Linked DNA regions of Homo sapiens. The protein of the gene in region 4 purifies or fractionates together with the protein of the main gene of each other region. This does not show direct contact. Each region holds a gene or a part of one and is shown on either strand. Other genes may lie near its edges.

Region 1 (2,407 bases), on a different chromosome or scaffold from region 4:
CTGGTTTGTGGACAATGAGAAATGCTGCCAAGTTCCGGGCTTGCTCTTTTCTCCTCTCTGCTCAGGCCTCTCCCTCCTCCTTCATGATTTAGGCTGCTTTAGGCCATGCAGCTGTGGTAAGTGTCCTAGGGTCACTCATGGCCACCCTCTATAGAAGCTCCCTGTGGGCTGTGAGTAAAAGTGATGTCCAGAGAAAGGGCTGTGCGTTGATGCCCCCAAAGGGCATTCCCTGAATTTTATTTGGTTTCCTGACATTTGCCACAGGACCACAGTTGGTGACAGATTCCCAGGATGCTGGCTAGGATCGGACCCAGGCGGCACTTCTGGATTCCTAGTTTTTGCTGGAGAGGGGTCGACTGCCAGATTAACAGGCTGTCTGGCAAATGGCGGCCTTCGGCAGCACTTAGGTCCGAAAACACAAAGGTTGGCCTAAGAAAACCATAATTAACTACACACACACACACACACACACACACACACACACACACACACACACTCACTAGAAATAAAAGACTAGTGTCTCTTTTAATTGTCATTTTTATAGCTCCCCACCGCAGCTGCCCCCCACCCTTCCCTTCGATGACAACGTTTGCAGGCTTCAGGGGGACCAGGGAACAAAGCTGGGGCCTGGCAGCCCCACTACGCTGCCAGCCGGGGAGAACAAGTCACAATTACAAATTATCACAACAATTAGCGCCTGTACTTGGGGGATCTGCAAATTGAGGAGGCCCCAGCTCCTCATTGTACACGGGTCTATTTGGCAGTGACCTTGCTCTGGAGACGATGATATTCCTTCAGCCTGTAAACCAGATTCAAAACAAAGAAAAATGTAAATTAACAATAACAACACACACTGGGTTCAATTAATTCAGGCAGAGCTGGGGTGGCTGGGGCAGCTGTTTGTTAAGATGTGTGTGAAGTTGCCTTTTTTTCTATTCCCTCTCCCGCCCTGGCCCCTCCTGCCCTCCAATCAGGATAATGTAATTAATTTATCTTAGGGGGAAAACATTGTTTGTCATTGTTGAAGACAAAGCGTTTAACTGGCAATAGGAGAAATGAAGAGGCCACTATGTAAGCCCTGTTTGTTCTGGGCCATTTAAAAGGGTTTATAGAGTCATAAAATACAAACAGAGGGCGCAGGAGGCAGGGGAGGTGGAGGTGACGGAGGGGAAGGGAGAGGACCCTGGGCAGATGGGCGGGCTTCAACATCTCTCGGGGCATGAGGTGCCTCCAGGGACAAGAGACTGGCTCTGGGAGAAAATGATGGCTCTGTGCCCAGGGCATGTTGTTAGCAAGAGGAGACTGACTTGCATCTTCTTCTAGACTCCAATCCCCATGAGAAGGGAGCTGGTGATGGAGAACCCACAGCAGGACAGGCCCTCCGGACTCAGCTCCACCACCTCCTAGCTGTGTGACCCTTGGAAAGTTACTTAACCACTCAGCCTGTTCCCGGGGAGTTGCAAATTTTGTGTAAGAATTAAATGAGACATCCTAGGAGAGTGTCCCAGAGCAGCTTAGTCTATGTTAGCTGCTGGTGACAAACGACCCTGTTTGCCCTTGAGCACACCGGCCCTGGGCTGAGTGTGCTTGCTGCTGGCACTGCCCCTGGCTCTTCCTGCATGCCAGGGTCTAAGCCTGAGCCGCATGCTTGATTTCCACAGGCTCATATTGAACCTTCACTGCATCTGTGAGGCAGGTACAGCTGACACTCTTACTGGTGACTCACAGAGGATCAAAGGTCTGAGTGACTTCAGATGACGTGCACCACCCTCCTGGGCCATGGAGATCCACGTGGCTAGGATGGCTTCCAGCTAGACCTACAGCTCAGGTATGGTGACAGAAAACAAAGGCTTCTCTCCACCTCTATGCTATTTCCTTGTTTAACCTGCCCTGCAAAGGAGCTCATAGTGGAGTCCCTGTGGCTTAGCGGGAGGGGAGGGCAAGTATCAGAGGCACCCGGTGGGACACAGGAACCTAGGACCCCAATGCCTAGGACCCTCTGTTACTGTCGGCTATCAAAGCATGCTTCTGAGGATGCTATGGGCAGATGGACAGGAAAGTGGGGTTTGTCTAGGGCAGGGCAGGGCAGGGCAGGGCAGCAGTCAAGGTCGCATCAAAGCCTACCCTTTACACCTGGGGGCTCTCAAAGCCTACCCTTTACACCTGGAGGCTCTGAAGGCCCGTCAGGGCCCTGAGCTTCTCACCTGAGGGAATTGATGTTGATGAACCCGGTGGCATCAGTTGGCTCATAATCACCCTGCACGTTCATGCTGCAAGGAGAGTAGAAGCTTGTCAGCTCAGCCTGGCCCTGGCCTCTGCTTGAAGGGAGGACTGCTGGGGCCAGAAGCAGCCCCACCTCCCAGATGCCAGGGCATTTCCCCTGTGTGGGTCCAAACCCTCCCTGCAC
Region 2 (3,500 bases), on a different chromosome or scaffold from region 4:
GACATTTATATATGTGGAAAGAAGAAAACATTTGCTTTTAACAACAGAAGGTCCAAGCAGAAAGCATGAAAGTCAAGGACACAGAGCTGACTCATCCTGCAGCTTTTGAAAAAAACAAAAACACCCAAAAAACAAATTCCATGAATGGCAAGAAAGTTTTCCCAAGACAACCTCCTTTTGGTCTTCCTATCTCAAATGCCTTCCATACGGCCTGCCTCCAACCCATCAAGCTCATGCTCTGCTCCCACTCCTAGAACACCATGTCATCTTGCATGTGAAACAGCAAATAATGAAACCTGGTTTCTCCACGTGGGTATGATGTGGTGCTCCAACTGGAGGGGTCCTGAGGGCAAGATCCTCCCTCTGGCATGTCCACAGTTATAAAAAGACTAGAACTCCCTCCCAGGGCTCATTGGGTGAAAAAGGAAAGACATATTCTCAAAGATCACAGCAGTACCTACTCCTGCCTCTGACCTGTGTGATAGCCATTGTCTGAGGTATAGAAGATGTAAGTGTTGTTGAGCTCCCCAGTGAACTCCAGCCTCTTGACCAGTTTCTCCACAAGGTCATCAACTGAGAGGAGAGTTTGCCACCTGGATGTGAACAGAAGGTAGAAATGGGACTTCAGGGGCAATGGCTGAGGTATCACTATCTTGCCAAAAAAAAAAAAAACCAAAAACAAAAACAAAGACACCCCCGTTTAAAAAAAAAAATCCAAAACAACCCCCGTTTAAAAAAAAAAAATTGCAAAACACTCTCCCCCAAAACTCAAATCCCCAATCTCCATTCCCTAGACCTTCCCATTGTAAAAAACAGATTAGAAAATTCCAGAACATAATTAATTCATTCCAAAGTTAATTGTTTCCAAAGAAATAAACTCGTTTTTAAATAACCAGTTAGCTTTACTTTTTATTGGCAATAGTGATGAGAGTAGAGACAATCGGAAGGAAGAGTTGTCCATTCTCAGTACTGTGTATTACAGATTAATTCAGATAGGACTGTGCTACAAAAAAGCTTAAGATGTTTGAACTAGGAGCTGGCAAGCTATGACTCATGGGCCAAAGCTTGCCCACTGTCTGTTTTTATAAAGTTTTATTGGACCACAACCATGCTCATTCATTTACATGTTACCCAGGGCTGCTTTTGTGCTACAACAGCAGAGCTGAGTAGTTGTGACAGAATGTATGACCTGCAAGCCTATTAATATTTACTATCTGCCCCTTTACAGAAAAAGTTTGCTTATCCCTGGTCTACACTAAACACTTCCTAAGAGAAAGTAATGGATTTTTAAAAATTGACTTAAGAGAATTTCTTGAAAATTCCAAATGGCAAAGGCAGATATTTTGATCTTGTCTAAGCTTTTGGGTCATTTGTCACATATGACAATGGGCTCTCTCAACCAAGTCACCTTTTCTTTAAAGCAGGAGAAAAAATTCTACCACATGGTTCAAGTTTGCAAGACTTTTGCCAAGTCCTAAAAATGGGCAGTCTAATTAGTACTGGGGTCCAAATGCCACCTCATTCATTTGAGTGTAAAGGAATCTCTCTGCTTCTGGTGCCCCATCGAAGCCTCTCTCCCACTGACTTGCTTCCCTCTGTTTTTGTTTCAGAGACAACAATGTGGTGTGGTCTCCTCTTCATGAGCTGATTTGCAGGGTCTTTAAAACCACTCAGATTGTTATGTAGCAGCAGCTCTTACCTTTTCCTAAATGCATTATCTAAAAACTGTATTGAAGAATTAGTCATTGGAGTCTTGGCTTGCCTAATTAACCAGTGCTTGTTCTAAAATTTAGAAGAAAAAAAATGTTAACACCAAGTCACCACAGTCAAACAAACTACTGGATTACTACAGTAGATAATAAATAGAACCGTTTCACTCATACTTCAGCAAGAAGGAACTAACTGGAACTTGTTTAAGCAATTTCAGAACTTCTCTCCCTTCCTGTGTTCCTAAAATAGAAATTTCTGTAGATTAACTCAATCTCTCATTCTTCAGCTTCCCAGCACCTCCCAAACCATAAAAGGTCTTGGCTTCTCTGTTGGCAGTATTAAGAGATTTTAGAGGATGTCACTGGGAAACTACTAGCTAAAGCGAGATTACATTTACAACTCTGATCTTATGCCTTTGGTCTACTACAATTAGAAAATGGGCAAATAGGGCGTAGTGGCGGGCGCCTGTAGTCCCAGCTACTTGGGAGGCTGAGGCAGGAGAATGGCGTGAACCCGGGAGGCGGAGCTTGCAGTGAGCCGAGATCCCGCCACTGCACTCCAGCCTGGGCGACAGAGCGAGACTCCGTCTCAAAAAAAAAAAAAAAAAAGAAAATGGGCAAATAACTTTACCTTCCTCTAAGTTGCTTTTTTTGAGACAGAGGCGGAGGTTGCATTGAGCCGAGATCGCACTACTACACTCCAGCCCAAGCCCAAGCTGGAGTACAGTGGCACGATCTCGGCTCACTGCAACCTGTGCCTCCCGGGTTCATGCGATTTTCATGCCTCAGCCACCTGAGTAGCTGGGATTACAGGCGTGCACCAACATGCCTGTCTAATTTTTGTATTTTCAGTAGAGATGGGGTTTCATCATGTTCGCCAGGCTGGTCTTGAACTCCTGGCCTCAGGTGATCCTCTTGCCTTAGCCTCCCAAAGTGCTGGGATTACAAGCATAAGCCACCATACCTGGTCTACCTTCCTCTAAGTTTTGCCTAGCCAAGATATCGGTCACCCTAGATCCTAAGGAAAAATCTTATTACAGCAATTTCCTAAAACTTCAAGTCTAAATCTGGAGGGCCCTCCCATTTAAACAAAGACATCCCTATATACTATTCTCTCTTCTCTATTCGTAAAACCCTAAGCCACCAGATCTCAAACTATGCTCCTCAAAGTGTTATTAAGTTTGAGAAATGCTGTATAGCATATTCTCCTGCTAGAAATTCACATTCGATCATGAATAACTCTGAGAAGTCCTGTAGCAGAGTGACTTATTTAACTCAAACTTTCCAAACTTACTTGACCATGGGAACTTTTTATTAACTTCTTTTGGAACACAGATTGAGAATCGTCCTATTTTACTATTTTTTAATTTATTTTATTTTATTTTATCTTATCTTGTCTCATCTCATCTTATTTTATTTTATTTTGATGGAATCTTGCACTGTTTCCCAGGCTGGAGTGCAGTGGTGCGATCTCGGCTCACGGCAAGCTCCGCCTCCCGGGTTCACGCCATTCTCCTGCCTCAGCCTCCCGAGTAGCTGGGAGTACAGGTGTCCACCACCACGCCCGGCTAATTTTTTGTACTTTTAGTAGAGATGGGGTTTCACTGTGTTAGCCAGGATGGTCTCAATCTCCTGACCTCGTGATTCGCCCGCCTTGGCCTCCCAAAGTGCTGGGATTACAGGCATGAGCCACTGCGCCCGGCCAGTACTCTAATTTAAAACACAGTTCACTCAGCTTTGAAACTGTATTTAACAAGCACATGCCTATAATGTGCCAGACAATATGCTAAT
Region 3 (3,500 bases), on a different chromosome or scaffold from region 4:
AAAACAGACACGAGTACATGAGTACTACCACCAGCACACTACTGGTGGTGTGCTGGAGTCAGTCCACACTGGCTCATGAGAGCCCACTGTGTGCATCTCTTTCCAACTGCACATTCAGTAACACCGTGACGGTGGCTTGAAACTGTCCACAGTGAGAGTATTTACACTGCGGAAATCAAAAAACACTAAAAATCAAGGCTGGTTCTTTCCCCCTACAGGCCACTTGTTAAACACTTTCTAGGATGTCACTGTATGTGCTTATCTACTGATAAGAGTATGTGATCAAAAATATGTGGATAGGAGAGAAGATACTTCTTATATTGGAATAGGCTAGAAGGAAAAAGAAGGTATGAATTCAGATAGGATGATAAATGTAATAATAGTAGGCAGATGAGTACGTTCTAGGGTTTCTTTTGGAGGGGTGGTAGTTAGAGAATGCTCTGACTTTCTCAATGAAGTTAAGGTGAATCACTAGCTAAGAATGTATGCTGGTCATTAGAGCTGTTTGCCAAATAGTTCTGGATTCCTCCTCTGCCACCCAGCTTTTTGGGCCCAGTGTAAAATTACACTTCCTGGTCCCCTCAGGATGGATGAAACATGGGATTACTTCTGTCCAGTGAAAAATGATGGCCATCCCTTCCAGCCTGGAACATGTCATTGTCACTGCAAGACCCTCCAGCATACTCTGCACCCCTCTGCCACAGCAACCAGCTGGTGGCTGCTTGGATCTCTGAGCTACTTTAATGGGTAGTGACTCTGTGCCAACCCACAAATGATACATAAAATGGACAAGAAATATTATTGTGTGGAGCCACTGAGATTTGAGAGTTATCAGTTACTATAGCATAATCTAGCCTGTTCTGAATGAGGCAGAGTGCAGGAGATATTATAGAAGACATGCAGAAAGTGGGAGGAAGTATGCAGAAGAAAAATGAATGAGTCAAGTCTGAATGTGAAAAAATGACTTTACTAGGTAAGTGTGGTAGGACTGCCCTGCTTCTCAAAATGCCTATCTGAGGTGTTGACCATGAATTGAAAGTGACAAAGAGAAGAGTCATGTGGCATACCACTATGGATTGTCATTGAGATTGTCAGGGATCCATTAAGGATTGAGTTTCCATATTTTAGTTATCCCCATTGGAAAACAGAAACAGTGATATCGTACTTTCTATTTACATAGCTTATGAAGAAAGCAATGCAATCCTGTAAGCAGAGACCAAATATTCTGAAGCCATGAGCAGCAACTCTAATTCTATCACTATACTGGTTACTTTCTTAGCAAGTCCCTGAGGCCCCAGTATACTCAAAGCAATGATGAAGAAGTGATGAAGAAGGTAATTTCTTCACACTGTCTTAACACCTCCAGTACTCTCTGAATGGTCCTTAGTATAAAACAATAAAGAAAAGTATGGTAATTCCCAAGAACTCTGTTTCTGAACACACTCCCCTCTGGGACTAAGAAAGGAATACTGAAAATAATGCACTCATATGCACAAACGCCTGCCCACCCCCCATTAAAATTCTGCTGCCCTTATTCAACATACACTGGGTCTCAACACTGCATAAGATATATTTAATATGGGGAAATTATAACCCTATAGACCAGGAAAAACATATAACCACATAAATATCATCTGTAAATACCTTGACATAAAAAACAGCATAAAAAGAAAATAATGGCATGGGAAAATATTCCATTTTTTTCCCACTCAGATCATGTCCCCTTTCTCTCTGACCATATGTGCTTCTATTCCTGCAGTCCTCAAGTGTCCAGCTCTTAAATACTTCCCCCAGGCTCCTCCCCCAACTCCACACCTGGATGGTCCTTCCCATCCCTGGGTCATTTTCTTATAGAAACCTTTCCTGGACATGGATGAAACTGGAAATCATCATTCTCAGTAAACTATCGCAAGAACAAAAAACCAAACACCGCATATTCTCACTCATAGGTGGGAATTGAACAATGAGATCACATGGACACAGGAAGGGGAATATTACACTCTGGGGACTGTTGTGGGGTGGGGGGAGGGGGAGGGATAGCATCAGGAGATATACCTAAAGCTAGATGATGAGTTAGTGGGTGCAGCGCACCAGCATGGCACATGTATACATATGTAACTAACCTGCACAATGTGCACATGTACCCTAAAACTTAAAGTATAATAAAAAAAAAAAGGAAACCTTTCCTGAATCTCCACCCTCAAATAGGTGCCCTCTGTTATCACTCCCCACGCTTTACTTCTCTTTTGTAGCACTTATCTATTTGTAACTATATTTATTTAAACTATTATTAGTTTAATAATCTGTCCTGTAAGATCACAAGCTCCTAAAAGAAGATAGTACTAGTGGCCTGGAGCGGTGGCTTACACCTGTAATCCCAGCACTTTGGGAGGCCGAGGCAGCTGGATCATCTGATGTCAGGAGCTCGAGACCAACCTGGCCAACAAGGTAAAACCCTGTTTCTACTAAAAATACAAAAACTAGCTGGGCGTGGTGGCGGGCATCTGTAATCCCAGCTACTCAGGAGGCTGAAGCAGGAGAATCACCTGAACCCGGGAGGTAGAGGTTACAGTGAGCCGAGATCACACCACTGCACTCCAGCCTGGGTGACAGAGCAAGACTCCATCTCAAAAAAAAAAAAAAAGAAGAAGAAGAAAATAGCATTAGTATCTGTTATAGCCACATCACTTGGTTCCACATAAGTGCTCAAGACTCCTTTCTAAGAATAAAAGCTTTAAAAGACTGAAGCAGATGAGTGGAGATCTTGGCTGGGGCAGGAAAGAAAACTAAATGTAAAGAGGCATGAGAGATCTTTTTGGGGTGCTAAAAATGTTCTAAAACTACTGTGATGATGGTTGTATGCCTCTGGAAATTTACCAAAAATCACTGAATTGTACAATTTCAAAACGTGCATTTTATGGTATGTAAATTATACACATATACAGTTAATCAATAAACTTTTTGAAAAAGAAGATTGATAGATGTGAATATCTGAAAATTTAAATTTTTGTATAAAATAAATCATAAAATTAAAAGGCAAACAAACTGGAAAAAAAAAGTACAACCTATATGGCAGGAATGCAGAAACATTAATGCAGAACCATTAAAAATTTAAATACACACACACACACCCATTCACAAGCAAATTAATAGAGAAGCCTCTTAGCACATAAAAAAATTAACTGCCTGGGCGTGGTGGCTCACACCTGTAATCCCAGCACTTTGGGAGACTCAGGCGGGTGTATTGCTTGAGCTGACGAGCTCGAGACTAGCCTGGGCAACAAGGTGAAATCCCCTCTCTACTAACAATACAAAAAAATTAGCCAGGTGTGGTGGCATGCACCTGTGGTCCCAGCTACTTGGGCAGCTGAGGTGGAAGGATGGCTTGAGCCCAGGAAGTGGAAGCTGAAGTGAGCCTAAGCCTGGGCCACAGAGTGAGACCCCATTTCAAAGATAGATAAATAAATAAATATTAACTGTATCAAAGTTGGAAAATATAT
Region 4 (3,500 bases):
CAGCTATGGACCTGGGTGAGCGGGGAGCCCGGGCAGTCTCAGTAGGCCATGTGCCCAAGGGCAGGGAGGACCCCGAGACTGAGTGTGTTCCTGCAAATACTCGGCCCTGACAGCTCAACGCTCGGCAGCTCTCTGGGCAGCTGGTTGTCTGTCCATAGGTCTGGGCATGTGTGTTCCTGTCCTTCAGTGGGCATGGCTGGGGACTCTGGGGGGTGGGCTCCCACGACTACCTGCTGTAGGGTGAGGCGGGGTCCAGGCCGGTGAGCAGCCATCATGGGAACTCCCGCTGGAGGAGCTGGCACATTGGGGTGGCTCCTCGATGGGAAGGCGGAGGCAGCCCAGCTGGGCGCCACGCAGGCCTCAGAGGACATGCCATGCTGCTGGGGGGCAGAGGGCTCTGCAGGAGGCTTGTTCGGGTGCATCTGCCATAGAAGAAAGGGCACCAAAGAACTGGGAGGGACAAGGCACATCCTCTGCTAGTCAGTGACCACAGTGAAATGTCTGGAGGCCAAGACAGGGCCTGCGTGGCTGTGGCTGAGCCCCAGGGCTCCAGCACTGGGGTAGCTCTCAGGAGCTCTGCACTGCCTGGGCTGGCCCTGGCTGACATCTGACGTGCAGGGCACAGGCAAAGAACGCGGAGGGACTGAGCAGAGGCCAGGCTGCAAGTACTCACACACCTCCTCCCTGCCCCGGGGCAGCGGCCCAGCTGCTCTGCCCTGCACACCGAGGGGCTGTGGGTAGGACTGCAAGTCCTCCAATGAGAGAAAAGACTACCCGAGGGGCGGAGGCCGCAGGGCCTGCCCACATCTCCTTGTCGTGGCTTCTATGAAGAACTGTGAGCACGGCACATCGTGCTCAGGAAAGCCCTGCACGCAGCCACGGGTCAGCACTGCTGACTTGCTGAACGCAGGGCCGCAGAGGCCACGGGCTCCTGCAGCAGGAGGATGGCAGGTTTCAGAGCGTGGGAGGCTCCCTGCGGTCTTCCCAGCTCCAGACCAAGAGGCCTGCCCTCCTGGCACCAAGACAGAAAGATGCGAGCGTGGTGCCCCCTGAACGGAGAGGACAGCCTGGACAGAGGCTGGGGATGGTTCAGGCCCCCTCAGAGAGCCCACAATCCCATGGCCCACAGGAAACCATCGGGGGCCCCTCTCCTGCACCCTCTCTCTCAGTGCTCCCTGGGGGGTGCAGGCTTTTGGCCCTGGAGAAGGCACCACGCAGGCCGATAGCCTTGGCAGAGAAGTCTGGGCCAAGAAGCCCAGGGACTTGCTGTGGTCAGCCCTCTCAGGACAGGGACCCAGAGGCTTCTGGGCCATCTTGAAGTTGAGTCCAACCTTGGCCTGGCTGTTCACACACAGAGCCAGGGCCGCTGGCCCTACTTACCACATATCCCCATTCTGGATCGTTCGGTCGTTGGGAGCTCCGGCGTGTCCGTAGTGTAGCACGGCTGAGTTCTCACCACTGCAAAGAGCCGGGGGAGGGTGATCAAAGCCCATTCTTCTGCAGCAGGCTCTGAAGGAGGGGGTGGATGCTCGATCCCCTGCCCATGAGCAGCACTGTCCCCACCTCCAGCACAGGCCCAGGCGTGGCTGGACCAGGTCCACAGCCAGAGGTAAGGCCGGGGGACATGGTGGCCCTGTCACCCCGCAGTCACATGGCTGGCAACCAGCCTCAGTCTGCAGGCAGAGCCTCCTGGCTGAAGGCGTCGTTAGGCGGCTGCCCTCTGGGCTGGGATGTGGGCATCATGTGGAACACATGTAAAACTTAGCAATGGGCCGGGTGTGGTGGCTCACGCCTGTCATGCCAGCACTTTGGGAGGCCAAGAAAGGCAGATCACTTGAGCCCACAAGTTCGAGACCAGCCTGGGCAACATGGCGAAACCCTACCTCTACAGAAAATGCAAAAAAAATTAGCTGGGTTAGGTGGCTCACAGCTGTAATCCCAGTTACTCAGGAGGCTGAGCTAGGAGGATCACCTGAGCCTGGGAAGTGGAGACTGCAATGAGCTATGATCATGCCACCGCACTCCAGCCTGGGCAAAAGAGGGAGACCCTGTCTTTAAATTAAAAAAAGAGCAAAAAAGGGGAACAGCAGTTCCTGGGCCTGGAGAAGGGCCCTACGGAACCCCTCCTTTCCTGGTGGCCAAAGGGGAGAGGGCCTCTATGGAAAGGGCCCCGGCTGTCCTGGAGCTGCCCTGGCGTCCTGACCAGGCTGGAGAGAGAGGAAACCAAGAGGATCCTCGCTCCTCTGCCTGAGAAGGCTTCCCTAATGAGCGATGCCTTTAAGAAAAAAAGGACTTTTAAGTCTGTCCAAAGGGGGGAAGGAAACCCCCACCTGGGTGTAATATTTATGGCCCTGCTCAGGAGTCTTGGGAATCATAAAAGTAGAAATAATGGTTTTCTCTCCATCCACCAGAGAAGAACATTTCCAAGGACTGAGATTTCACATGTATTATTCATGTGCCGGGGACGTGCGCATTGGCAGAGCTGCCTGGCTCCATCCTGGCCGGGCAGGGGCCAGACCCGAGGGGCAGAGAGCAGGGAGACTGGCTGGGAGAGCGCAGGAGACGAGGGGGCCACGCCCACAGCCAGGACGCATGTGGGGGCAGACACACCCCAAGGGACACATGCCGCTGTGCATGGCCCACACAGCATGGCAATGATCCCATATCACTGTCATTTCTACCATGTGTGTGCCTCCAAGCACACCCAGCCAGGTGTTGATGGCACACACCCAAGCGCACACACCCACACAGAGCCCTGCCCCTCGGCACCATGTGCCACGAGCAGGCACACCAACAGTGACATGCACACCCACATACAGCAGCACTGGTCCCCACGCAGCCACACCCACATAGACACACCACCACCACTTTCTGCACTGACCCTTCCACACTCCACCCCTGCTGCACACAGAAGCTGCCCAGCCTGAGCTCACAGCCCGGTCCCCACATGCTGTGTGTGTGCCCGTGTGGAGGAGTGGCCTTCCTGTGCTTAGCTGCTGTGCTGACCAGCTGGGGACAGGAGGGAGGGGACGCCAAGCAGCCCCTCTGCAGTGGGCAGGCCATGCTCCCTCCTTCACCCAGTGCCAGGTCCTGCAGGCAGAGGCCACCTCAGCTCCGGGAGTCTTGGGAGGGAGGAGCGACTTCCAAGCTTGGGCCGGGCGCTGGTGTGGGCGTGTGAGTGAGCAAGTGTGGCTGAGCTGGGGGATGGTGGAGCCCCCCACTCACTAACTGCCCTACCTCCTCCCACTGGTCACCCCCAGGGGAGCCAGGGTGCCCCGCTTACCTGCCGCAGATGCAGGTGTAGGAGCTGTGGCGCATGCCGCCCCGGGAGTAGCAGTAGTGCTCGAAGAGGCTGCAGGGGGAGAGACGCGTCAGGGTTGGGGCACTAGAGCAGGCACACCCCACTCCACGAGCCCCATGAACCCCAAGGGAAGGCCCTCGGCCCATGGTCTCCCCTGCCGTGGCCCCACAATGGTCCAAACTCTCAGTGTGAGTCTGTG

What was found.
Region 1: the proteins of PEPD (region 4) and ASS1 fractionate together in Homo sapiens (co-fractionation; one large-scale study listed by BioGRID). This does not show direct contact.
Region 2: the proteins of PEPD (region 4) and GNS fractionate together in Homo sapiens (co-fractionation; one large-scale study listed by BioGRID). This does not show direct contact.
Region 3: the proteins of PEPD (region 4) and FTO fractionate together in Homo sapiens (co-fractionation; one large-scale study listed by BioGRID). This does not show direct contact.

What each region holds. Positions count from the first base shown.
Region 1 is NC_000009.12:130,499,368-130,501,774, reverse strand, and holds the end of ASS1 (argininosuccinate synthase), read right to left. Parts: intron 2,271-2,407; coding exon 2,205-2,270; intron 800-2,204; coding exon 754-799; 3' UTR 501-753; downstream 1-500. UniProt on the Homo sapiens protein: One of the enzymes of the urea cycle, the metabolic pathway transforming neurotoxic amonia produced by protein catabolism into inocuous urea in the liver of ureotelic animals.
Region 2 is NC_000012.12:64,738,907-64,742,406, forward strand, and holds part of GNS (N-acetylglucosamine-6-sulfatase precursor), read right to left. Parts: intron 1,783-3,500; coding exon 1,700-1,782; intron 594-1,699; coding exon 475-593; intron 1-474. UniProt on the Homo sapiens protein: Hydrolyzes 6-sulfate groups in N-acetyl-d-glucosaminide units of heparin sulfate and keratan sulfate.
Region 3 is NC_000016.10:53,819,156-53,822,655, reverse strand, and holds part of FTO (alpha-ketoglutarate-dependent dioxygenase FTO), read right to left. Parts: intron 1-3,500.
Region 4 is NC_000019.10:33,410,292-33,413,791, forward strand, and holds part of PEPD (xaa-Pro dipeptidase), read right to left. Parts: intron 3,353-3,500; coding exon 3,284-3,352; intron 1,459-3,283; coding exon 1,381-1,458; intron 1-1,380. UniProt on the Homo sapiens protein: Dipeptidase that catalyzes the hydrolysis of dipeptides with a prolyl (Xaa-Pro) or hydroxyprolyl residue in the C-terminal position.